Regions from separate parts of the Homo sapiens genome. Here region 2 is linked to region 1. The links come from fine-mapping of genetic effects on gene expression. A gene starts in region 1. The other region holds a variant in brackets. All regions are shown on one strand. Distances are from middle to middle.

What was found. PIP is the estimated chance that this variant, and not a neighbour inherited with it, causes the effect. A credible set is the group of variants that fine-mapping cannot tell apart.
Region 2: its variant is the best candidate, but not a certain one, in a credible set for the expression of CDKN1A in whole blood (TOPMed, PIP 0.53).

The regions. Positions count from the first base shown.
Region 1 is chr6:36,675,935-36,681,303 of GRCh38, forward strand. It overlaps CDKN1A (cyclin dependent kinase inhibitor 1A), which reads left to right and starts at 2,780. Exons shown (of 3, transcript NM_000389.5): 1 at 2,780-2,864. It overlaps DINOL (damage induced long noncoding RNA), which reads right to left and starts at 2,625. Exons shown (of 1, transcript NR_144384.1): 1 at 1,675-2,625. RefSeq lists enhancers at 292-381, 432-501, 481-1,680, 2,873-3,062, 3,074-3,661 and silencers at 2,593-2,822, 4,393-4,782.
Region 2 is chr6:36,602,664-36,608,032 of GRCh38, forward strand. It overlaps SRSF3 (serine and arginine rich splicing factor 3), which reads left to right. Exons shown (of 6, transcript NM_003017.5): 6 at 1-2,937. Among named protein-coding and RNA genes, the nearest start is that of SRSF3, 11 kb to the left of the region's middle. The variant G/A (reference allele first, on the strand shown) is at 1,900.

The DNA.
Region 1 (5,369 bases):
CTTGAACCTGGGAGGCGGAGACTGCAGTGAGCTGAGATTGTGCCACTGCTGACTTTGTCTCAAAAAACAAAACAAAACAAAAAAACAAAATGAAAACAAAAAGCCAGGGCTGCCTCTGCTCAATAATGTTCTATCTTTGTTCCGCCTCTTCTCTGGGGTCTCACTTCTTGGGAGCCTGTGTGAAGGTGAATTCCTCTGAAAGCTGACTGCCCCTATTTGGGACTCCCCAGTCTCTTTCTGAGAAATGGTGACATTGTTCCCAGCACTTCCTCTCCCTTCCTAGGCAGCTTCTGCAGCCACCACTGAGCCTTCCTCACATCCTCCTTCTTCAGGCTTGGGCTTTCCACCTTTCACCATTCCCCTACCCCATGCTGCTCCACCGCACTCTGGGGAGGGGGCTGGACTGGGCACTCTTGTCCCCCAGGCTGAGCCTCCCTCCATCCCTATGCTGCCTGCTTCCCAGGAACATGCTTGGGCAGCAGGCTGTGGCTCTGATTGGCTTTCTGGCCGTCAGGAACATGTCCCAACATGTTGAGCTCTGGCATAGAAGAGGCTGGTGGCTATTTTGTCCTTGGGCTGCCTGTTTTCAGGTGAGGAAGGGGATGGTAGGAGACAGGAGACCTCTAAAGACCCCAGGTAAACCTTAGCCTGTTACTCTGAACAGGGTATGTGATCTGCCAGCAGATCCTTGCGACAGGGCTGGGATCTGATGCATGTGTGCTTGTGTGAGTGTGTGCTGGGAGTCAGATTCTGTGTGTGACTTTTAACAGCCTGCTCCCTTGCCTTTTTCAGGGCAGAAGTCCTCCCTTAGAGTGTGTCTGGGTACACATTCAAGTGCATGGTTGCAAACTTTTTTTTTTAAAGCACTGAATAGTACTAGACACTTAGTAGGTACTTAAGAAATATTGAATGTCGTGGTGGTGGTGAGCTAGAAGTTATAAAAAAAATTCTTTCCCAAAAACAACAACAAAAAGAATTATTTCATTGTGAAGCTCAGTACCACAAAAATTTAAATAATTCATTACAAGCCTTTATTAAAAAAAATTTTCTCCCCAAAGTAAACAGACAGACAATGTCTAGTCTATTTGAAATGCCTGAAAGCAGAGGGGCTTCAAGGCAGTGGGAGAAGGTGCCTGTCCTCTGCTGGACATTTGACAACCAGCCCTTTGGATGGTTTGGATGTATAGGAGCGAAGGTGCAGACAGCAGTGGGGCTTAGAGTGGGGTCCTGAGGCTGTGCCGTGGCCTTTCTGGGGTTTAGCCACAATCCTGGCCTGACTCCAGGGCGAGGCAGGCCAAGGGGGTCTGCTACTGTGTCCTCCCACCCCTACCTGGGCTCCCATCCCCACAGCAGAGGAGAAAGAAGCCTGTCCTCCCCGAGGTCAGCTGCGTTAGAGGAAGAAGACTGGGCATGTCTGGGCAGAGATTTCCAGACTCTGAGCAGCCTGAGATGTCAGTAATTGTAGCTGCTCCAAGCCTGGGTTCTGTTTTTTAGTGGGATTTCTGTTCAGATGAACAATCCATCCTCTGCAATTTTTTAAAAGCAAAACTGCAAATGTTTCAGGCACAGAAAGGAGGCAAAGGTGAAGTCCAGGGGAGGTCAGGGGTGTGAGGTAGATGGGAGCGGATAGACACATCACTCATTTCTGTGTCTGTCAGAAGAACCAGTAGACACTTCCAGAATTGTCCTTTATTTATGTCATCTCCATAAACCATCTGCAAATGAGGGTTATTTGGCATTTTTGTCATTTTGGAGCCACAGAAATAAAGGATGACAAGCAGAGAGCCCCGGGCAGGAGGCAAAAGTCCTGTGTTCCAACTATAGTCATTTCTTTGCTGCATGATCTGAGTTAGGTCACCAGACTTCTCTGAGCCCCAGTTTCCCCAGCAGTGTATACGGGCTATGTGGGGAGTATTCAGGAGACAGACAACTCACTCGTCAAATCCTCCCCTTCCTGGCCAACAAAGCTGCTGCAACCACAGGGATTTCTTCTGTTCAGGTGAGTGTAGGGTGTAGGGAGATTGGTTCAATGTCCAATTCTTCTGTTTCCCTGGAGATCAGGTTGCCCTTTTTTGGTAGTCTCTCCAATTCCCTCCTTCCCGGAAGCATGTGACAATCAACAACTTTGTATACTTAAGTTCAGTGGACCTCAATTTCCTCATCTGTGAAATAAACGGGACTGAAAAATCATTCTGGCCTCAAGATGCTTTGTTGGGGTGTCTAGGTGCTCCAGGTGCTTCTGGGAGAGGTGACCTAGTGAGGGATCAGTGGGAATAGAGGTGATATTGTGGGGCTTTTCTGGAAATTGCAGAGAGGTGCATCGTTTTTATAATTTATGAATTTTTATGTATTAATGTCATCCTCCTGATCTTTTCAGCTGCATTGGGTAAATCCTTGCCTGCCAGAGTGGGTCAGCGGTGAGCCAGAAAGGGGGCTCATTCTAACAGTGCTGTGTCCTCCTGGAGAGTGCCAACTCATTCTCCAAGTAAAAAAAGCCAGATTTGTGGCTCACTTCGTGGGGAAATGTGTCCAGCGCACCAACGCAGGCGAGGGACTGGGGGAGGAGGGAAGTGCCCTCCTGCAGCACGCGAGGTTCCGGGACCGGCTGGCCTGCTGGAACTCGGCCAGGCTCAGCTGGCTCGGCGCTGGGCAGCCAGGAGCCTGGGCCCCGGGGAGGGCGGTCCCGGGCGGCGCGGTGGGCCGAGCGCGGGTCCCGCCTCCTTGAGGCGGGCCCGGGCGGGGCGGTTGTATATCAGGGCCGCGCTGAGCTGCGCCAGCTGAGGTGTGAGCAGCTGCCGAAGTCAGTTCCTTGTGGAGCCGGAGCTGGGCGCGGATTCGCCGAGGCACCGAGGCACTCAGAGGAGGTGAGAGAGCGGCGGCAGACAACAGGGGACCCCGGGCCGGCGGCCCAGAGCCGAGCCAAGCGTGCCCGCGTGTGTCCCTGCGTGTCCGCGAGGATGCGTGTTCGCGGGTGTGTGCTGCGTTCACAGGTGTTTCTGCGGCAGGTGAATGACGGGCGTGGGTCGGTGCGCGCTCGGCTTGCGCACACGGTGTCTCTAAGTGCGCGGGTGACGAGAGTCGGGATGTGCCGGAGACCCCGGGGCGGAGAGCGGGATTACAAGTACAGGAATCCCTGGTCACGCTCCCCGCCCCTGGAAACCCAGCTGGGGCGAGGGAGGGCGTGGACGGGACCGTTCTGGGAGCTCGCCTTTGGCTGCGGTTGGCTCCAGGCCCCAGGCGCAGTTTGCTCGCGGCGTGGGGATGAAGTCCGTGTCCCTGGAGGGGCCCAGGAAGGGCGAGGAAAGCGGAGTGGAGTAAGTTCGTCTAGGATCGGTCCCGGGTGGCTCTGGGATCCAATCTGCGCCGCCCTGGCCCAGGTCCCAGGTTCAGGTCCTTTACGCCACTGTGTCCACCACCTGGCTGAGCGCTGAGGTCAGCGCGGGCTGTTTCCTGGCCCTTGGGAATGTGCCAGGACCCGTCCCCTAAGGACTAGCGAGGAGGTGACTCACTGTGACAAGGAGACCCCAGGGAACGGACTGTATGAGGTCAGAACCCCGCCCGGGATGGGGTACAGCGGGACTCCAGAAGCCCTCTCCCCTGCCCCTTCGCGGTCTCCGTCCTCCCATCGGCACAGTGACCTATTTGGCTGGAACAGTTTGTTCCCAAGGAAGCCGGGCACTGGAGGTCCGGGACACCGCGTCGGGTCCCCGCTCCGCGGCGCGCTGTAGGGGTCGGGGAGTCACGGCCCTGCTCTGGGCGGGCTCTAACCAGCCTGTCAGTCGGGGAAGGGCAAGGGTCTCCTCTACCTCTTTCCCACCGCGGCCGGGAGAATCGCGGCCCAGCCTGTCCTCGGGTCGGGGCGCTGGACTCCGGGGCGGGAGCGGAGCCCACGCCTGGATGGGAGGCGGGGAGGGTTCATGTCTTTGAGGGGTGGGGGGTCTGGGGGGCACGACGCTGCTCAGGGCCTCTATCAGCTGCCTCGGGGGCTCAGGGCTTCCCGACCTAGCCCAGATTCCCTCTCCGAAAGCTACAGGGCTGAGCGGAGCAGGGGGGCGAGTCGCCCCCTGGGGCGCCGCCGCCTGGCGCGGACCACAGCGCGTCCTCTCCGTCCCAAACCCCTGGGGGACACTTGCGCCCTCTTCGTGAGGAAAAGCATCTTGGAGCTGGGTTAGGAACTTGGGGCGCCCAGGCAGCTTCCCCTCTCCTTGCCTCCCTCCACGTCGCGTTTCTGGGAGGACTTGCGAGCGGTTTTGTTTTCGTTGCTCCCGTCTATTTTTATTTTCCAGGGATCTGACTCATCCCGTGCTTTGGGCGTGGAGATAAGGTGGAGGGGCCGGCTCCCGGCGCGCGCGCGCGTGCGTGTCTGCGCGGGCGTGTGTGTGTGTGTGTGTGTGTGTGTGTGTGTGTGTGTCTGTGTCAGAGACGGCACAAGAGCGCGCGGTTTCCCAACAGCGGCGGGAGTTTCGGAAGCCTGGCCGGCTCAGCGTGACGTGTTCGCGGCCCCCCGGTCCCCTCCCATTCTCCCCCTCCCCACCCCAGGGTGACGCGCAGCCGGAGTGGAAGCAGTTTTGGCGGGCGAGCAGCGCCTTGCAGGAAACTGACTCATCACTACTCCCTCCAGCGGTCCGAGGCTCTGCCCACGCACCTCCCACTCCGCGCGTGATTTCCTGGAGGCCGGCGCCCCCTCCCGGCCCTGGCGGGAATAGCACACAGGCTTTCCCGCGGAGTGGGGCTGGCCGGCGCGAACCGCCGCGGCTACTCCTGGGCTCATCCGAGATCAACCCCTATGCCATTACCACCCCTTCAAAGGAGCACTCCTTAGGTTCAACAGTATTCACTGAGCTCTTACTGGAAATTAAAATATGGCTGAAGTCTAAGGCAGGAAGGCCAATAAAGGAGGCTATTTTTAATTGTTTCTAAAACAAGGGTTTGCGTTTCTGAGTTTTCTTTGGGCTGAAAGTTATTATGAGCATGAGAGCAGATTTTGATGGGGGAGGAGAGGCCTATGAGAGCCATAAGAGAAGGAGGGGTGGTAGAAGAGGAGAGGGTGCCTGCCTAGATCCTAGTCCTGTCTTGAACTCCCGAGAGCCAGGGAATATCCAGCACCTTGATGAAGCCCTAGGCGGGCGCCTCCTCCTTGTGCCTATGATGTATTGAGACCCAGAATGTCCATTTCAAACATACCAGTGTGTCTCCGCTTGGCTGGCAACCCAAGAGTGCCCATCTGAGGAATTGTGCCAAACACTTGCTTGAATCTTCAATCTGGATTAAGTTGGTCTCGGGAGGCAGGGCCTCAGCAATCTATATTTTGAAAAAACTCCCTAGGTGCTTTTCTTTCTTTCTTTTTTTCTTTCTTTCTTTCTTTCTTT
Region 2 (5,369 bases), 73 kb before region 1:
AGGGTACATTGTAGAGCCGAACTTTGAGTTACTGTGCAAGATTTTTTTTTCATGCTGTCATTTGTAATATGTTTTGTGAGAATCCTTGGGATTAAAGTTTTGGTTACAAATTGTTCTTTAACTTGAAAGCCTGTTTTTCCTTGCAAACTCAAATCTGTGAGCTTGGTACCAAGTCCAGGTATAACATTCCTATTGGAAGCCATACTTATATTTTCTTGTAAAGTGCTTTTGAATTAATAAAATATTAGCATAATTGTGTATAGTCAGTTGAACCCACTGTTACCATTGTTCTTATCCCATGGGAAGCAGTTGGTTACACGATTCTTATTTTATAAGAAACAGCTGAGAGGCACTATGGATTAGTCTTCTGAAGTGAAGGAAATATAGATGTCACCTAAGTGATAGTTAACCCATTTTTTTTTTTTTTAGGCATAGAAGCCAGTTCAGGGTCCATAATATTTAGTGACCAACATTTTAAAGTATAGCAGCAACCTGGTTCTTAAACACAAAGTAAGTTGCCCATTAACAAATGGCTTTTATCTTTAGCATGAAAACTTTCCACAGGTCTAAAAATTGCTTCCATTTTATAATTTGAGGTGTTGCATGGGAATTCTAAGCTGATCCATCATGATGTAAAAGTTCACAATATGGTTCAAATGTAACAGTGCAGAATTGAATATGGAGGCATGCATAACCTTCCTCTTAGAAAATGGCAGGTGTTGTAATTTCAAATTTTTGTGCAATTAGATTAAATCATAATGCAACAGTCTTGTGGCTTAGTTTCCTTAAATATGCTCTTAAGATAGTTTTGGATTATGCGGTATTGACTGTCTTAAATATGAAAGATAAGTCATTGCATTAAGAGTTCAAGCTAAATGGATACATTAAGATACAGTTCCTAAACAAATTATTTATTTCCACCTTTTACACAAATCTTGGGAGAATTGGTGTCAGGAAGGTTCAGCCTTAAAGTTAAGCATGTTCAAGAAAGACACTTTTCAGACAGCCTGTTTATTTACTGAGAGCTCTGGCATTGGGCATTTTGTCTTTAGTATTCTCACATAGCCTACAACCTGTTCCTGTTAGGAACAAGCCAAGATAGCTAAGAAGTTACGGAAGCCATGCAATATGTCAATTACATTGCTTTTTATAAATGGACAACTTATGTGGGCATTTTTGGGCAGTATATGACTTCCTTGCAGGCTCTTAAGTTGGAAGGGTTTCTGTAAAAAGGACAGTTACGGGTATAATATGGCTAAGAGAAATAATACAGAACCTGAAATAAAAGTAACTTCACCAGGGAGTTATCCTGACTTAGGTGACATACAGTCCCAGTTGGCAGTTACTTTAACCAGGAGCCCTAGCATAACCTCAAGACTCTTAGAAACTTTAGAACATGGAAATTGTTAAAAGCTTTGAATTGCACATTTAGATTGTGGCTATTAGGAATTTTTAAAGTTGTAATTCCTAAAATAACAGGTCACACTAACCGGTCTTGTCCATATTCAGGGTTGAGTGTAAAAATGAAAGGAATCACAAAACTGAACTTAGACCTGTGGTTTAAGGATCAAGGTGTTCACTAGAAGTCACTGTTACTAATACTTGATGACAATGTAAAGAAACATTAAGGATTATATTTGATTGTTTTCAAAGACACTGGCTGGATGTGGTGGCTCACACTTGTAATTCCTAGCACTTTGGGAGGCTAGGGCGGGTGGGAGGATCTCTTGAAGCCAGGAGTTGGAGACCAGTCTGCCCAACATGGCAAGATTCACATTTCTATTAAAAGGAATATTTAGTTTGATCTCTGGTTCACAGTTCATTGTGGGTTGCTTCTGACCTCCATGTCTTAAGCAGAAAGTAGGGAAGTTGTAGTTTTACCAAGCACAGGTACCCTGT[G/A]TCTACCATTTGAGTATCTTAGAGATCCTTACAAACGTGATCCCGTCAGCGTCCATGACACTCCCACCCTGTTAGACTGCTGTCAGTGGCTTTCACACAAACCCATATGTGGATGGAAAATCCAGGTTATTACTACATTCATTTTAGTACAGTGCTGCCTAATTAGAAATTTTGTTGAAGAGGTATTTCAGAATAGATACAGCCAGACTCCAGGCTCATTGACTTAGTTTTTCAGGGTGACCTAACCCTGTGTAATTTTGAGGAGTTCTACATGATAAATACCCTTGGTGATGTGAGAACCACTAGTTTAGTATTTTGTCCAAGTATGCTTTTTTTCAGAGTTCTGAATGAGATTTAGTTGTCATACCTAGTTGGTGGTAATTTCTTAGTTGTATATTTTTGTACTACCAGATTGTTGCCTTCTGGTTTTCCATCTTTTCGAGAAAGATTTCTAGTTAAAGTTACTGAAGAAAAACTGGGTTGGAAGTACATTTTTCTCTAAATAATCCAGTAGTGTTGAATTTGATTTTATGTCCACTCTAATTTTTTTCATCCTGTTTTATTAGGGGGATTCATCGGGTACCTGAAGATAATTCAGCTGTAGACCCCTTAAGGTTCTGAGACAAGGTCATTGAAATTTGTTTTGGCTGGGTGTGATGGCTCATGCCTGTAATCCCGGTGCATTGGGAGGTTGAGGCAGGTGGATCACTTGTGGTCAGGAGTTGGAGACCAGCTTGGTCAACATGGTGAAACCCCGTCTCTACTAACAGTACAAAAATTAGCTGGGTGTGGTGGCAGGCGCCTATAATGCCAGCCACTTGGGAGGCTGAGGCAGGAGAAGTGCTTAAACCTGGTGGGTGGAGGTTGCCATGAGCCGAGATGTAGCCACTTCACTCCAGCCTGAGTGAAAGCAAAACTTCGTCTCCAAAAAAAAAAAAAAAGTTTGTTTTGGTAAGCCTAGTATAATTGATTAGTTTTGTCCATGCAACTTTCCCCTTGTTGGACTCTGTACTTAATAATACAGTATTTAGATTCTCATTTAGTATCCTGCTTTCTCTGTCGATTTGATGAAGGTACCCAAAATGATTCCTAAACTAACACATGAAATACGTGTGTAAAACATTGCTGTTTTAATCTTTAGTTTTCCTCATTTCTGATGTAAGGCATTGTATAGTTGTTCTACTATAAAAGATGTAGAATATGGCCATGTAGTGCCTCACTGTAAGTTAGTACATGTGTCTTGAGCAAGTGGAAATATCAAAACATTGATACTTTGCTTCTCCCTAATCATTTGGAATGTCCTGAGATGGATACTATTTCCAGGGCAAAATTAAACCTTCCAGAAAAGTAGTCTATAGGTTGAAGGAGTCCTCCTCTTTTGAAAGCCTTGTTCATTTGTGGTTGTGCACCTTTATTTCAGTATATACTTCATTCAGATTTCATCTGGGGCAAGTTAGCATTCCTGTTTTTGTTTTGTTTTTTGAGACCAGTGGTGACATAGCTTACTGCAGCCTTGGCTTCTTGGGCTCAAGCGTTCCTCCCACCTCAGTCTCCCAAGTAGCTAGGACTACAGTCACACACCACCATGCCCAGCTAATTAAAAACTTTTTTTAAGAGACGTGGTTATGTTTCTCAGGCTGGTCTGGAACTCCTCAAGCGATCCTTCTGCCTCAGCCTCCCAAAGCGCTGGGATTACAGGCCTGAGTCACCTTTCCCTGGCCAAGTTAGCGTTGTTCACTGTTTTTTTATTTGCTCACAAAGCCCCAAAATGTAGAGCTAAGGGGAATGTTGTTGAAGTTGTTGCCTAATGCTGCCTGGAGCTGGGCAGTGGCAATGGGGGGTCGGGGAGGGGGTGGGGTGGAGATGTGAAGTTTATATTGGTCATTTGGAGAAGGAAATATTTGAATATTTTAAAAAAATGTTATGTAAGTCTTGAGATACAGAAGTTTATTTTTTATTTAATGTTATTTATGTATTTTTTTTTTTTTTTGAGATGGAGTCTCTCTTTGTCACCCAGGCTGGAGTGCTGTGGCTCGATCTCGGCTCACTGCCACCTTCGCCTCCCGGGTTCAAGCAATTCTCCTGCCTCAGCCTCCCGAGTAGCTGGGACTACAGGCGCGTGTCACCACGCCCAGCTGCTTTTTGTATTTTTAGTAGAGCCAGGGTTTCACCATGTTAGCCAAGCTGATCTTGAACTCCTGACCTCAAGTGATCCGCCTGCCTCGGCCTCCCAGAGTGCTGGGATTACAGGCGTGAGCCACCGTGCCCGGCCTAGAAGTTTCATTTTTGAAAGAATAACTCCTTTGGGAAACAATTCTAAATCTTAAGCTCAGGCAGCTGGTAACTTTAAAAAACCTCATCCAGCTGGCTGGCTGCCACCAGAATCTCATAATGACATTTATTTTTAGTTTAGATAAAACTACCCATGTTTTCAATGAAAGTATTTTACAAATACAAATTGGAATGTTGATTTGTCATTTAATTGTTTCATAATTTTCCTACATGTCAAAAGTCCATGATACAAACACTGACTGGGATACAGTGATAAATCACAACACCAGCTCAATATCTAGAAAGAAAAATCTATATAATATTTGTGTTTGACTGGAGTGCAAGTTTAGGCTGTTGACCTTTAACAATTCATTTTCACCCCAGTTTTCTTTTTGGTTGGTTGGTTTTGAGACGGAGTCTCACTCTGTCACTCAGGCTGGAGTGCAGTGGTGTGATCTCAGCTCACTGCAATCTCTGCCTCCCAGGTTCAAGTGATTCTCCTGTCTCAGCCTCCTGAGCAGCTGGGACTACAGGTGCGCACCACCATGCCTGGCTAATTTTTTGGTATTTTTTAGTAGAGACGGGTTTCACCATATTGGCAAGGATGGTCTCGATGTCTTGACCTCATGATCCGCCCGCCTTGGCCTCTCAAAGTACTAGGATTACAGGCGTGAGCCACTGCGCCCCGCCCCAGGCTGTTTTTTATAAGATGGTATTTCACTGTTGCCCAGGCTGCACTCAAGGACCCCTCCAGCCTTGGCTGTAATCCCAAAGTGTTGGGATTATAGGCATGAGCCACTGCAACTGGCCATCCCAGTTCCAGAGCTCACATTCAAATGATAAGGAGAGACTAACCAATCTGAGGTGAAGAGGAAGAAATAAATGCCTTAATCATGAAATAGGGGTTTAGAGCCAGAAACAGTTGAGAATGTAAACTGCACTAGGATTTAGAGATAAAAGGGTTTATTTAAGTTTGAAGTGGGTCCAAATCTGATTGGTTTTTTTTTACTTTCCTTTAGCCATGTATTTGAACAAGCGTGTATAAGATAACTTGTCCAGCTTTAACACTGACAGGAAAGCCAAGAAGTTGGGAGTATTAGAGTGCATTGATGAATGGCTGGCTCGCTCATTCTAGCTGCTTGGAGTTTAATGAGGACAGGTTTACTGAGCTGGCAGTCTTGGTTAGATTTCAGTTGGCA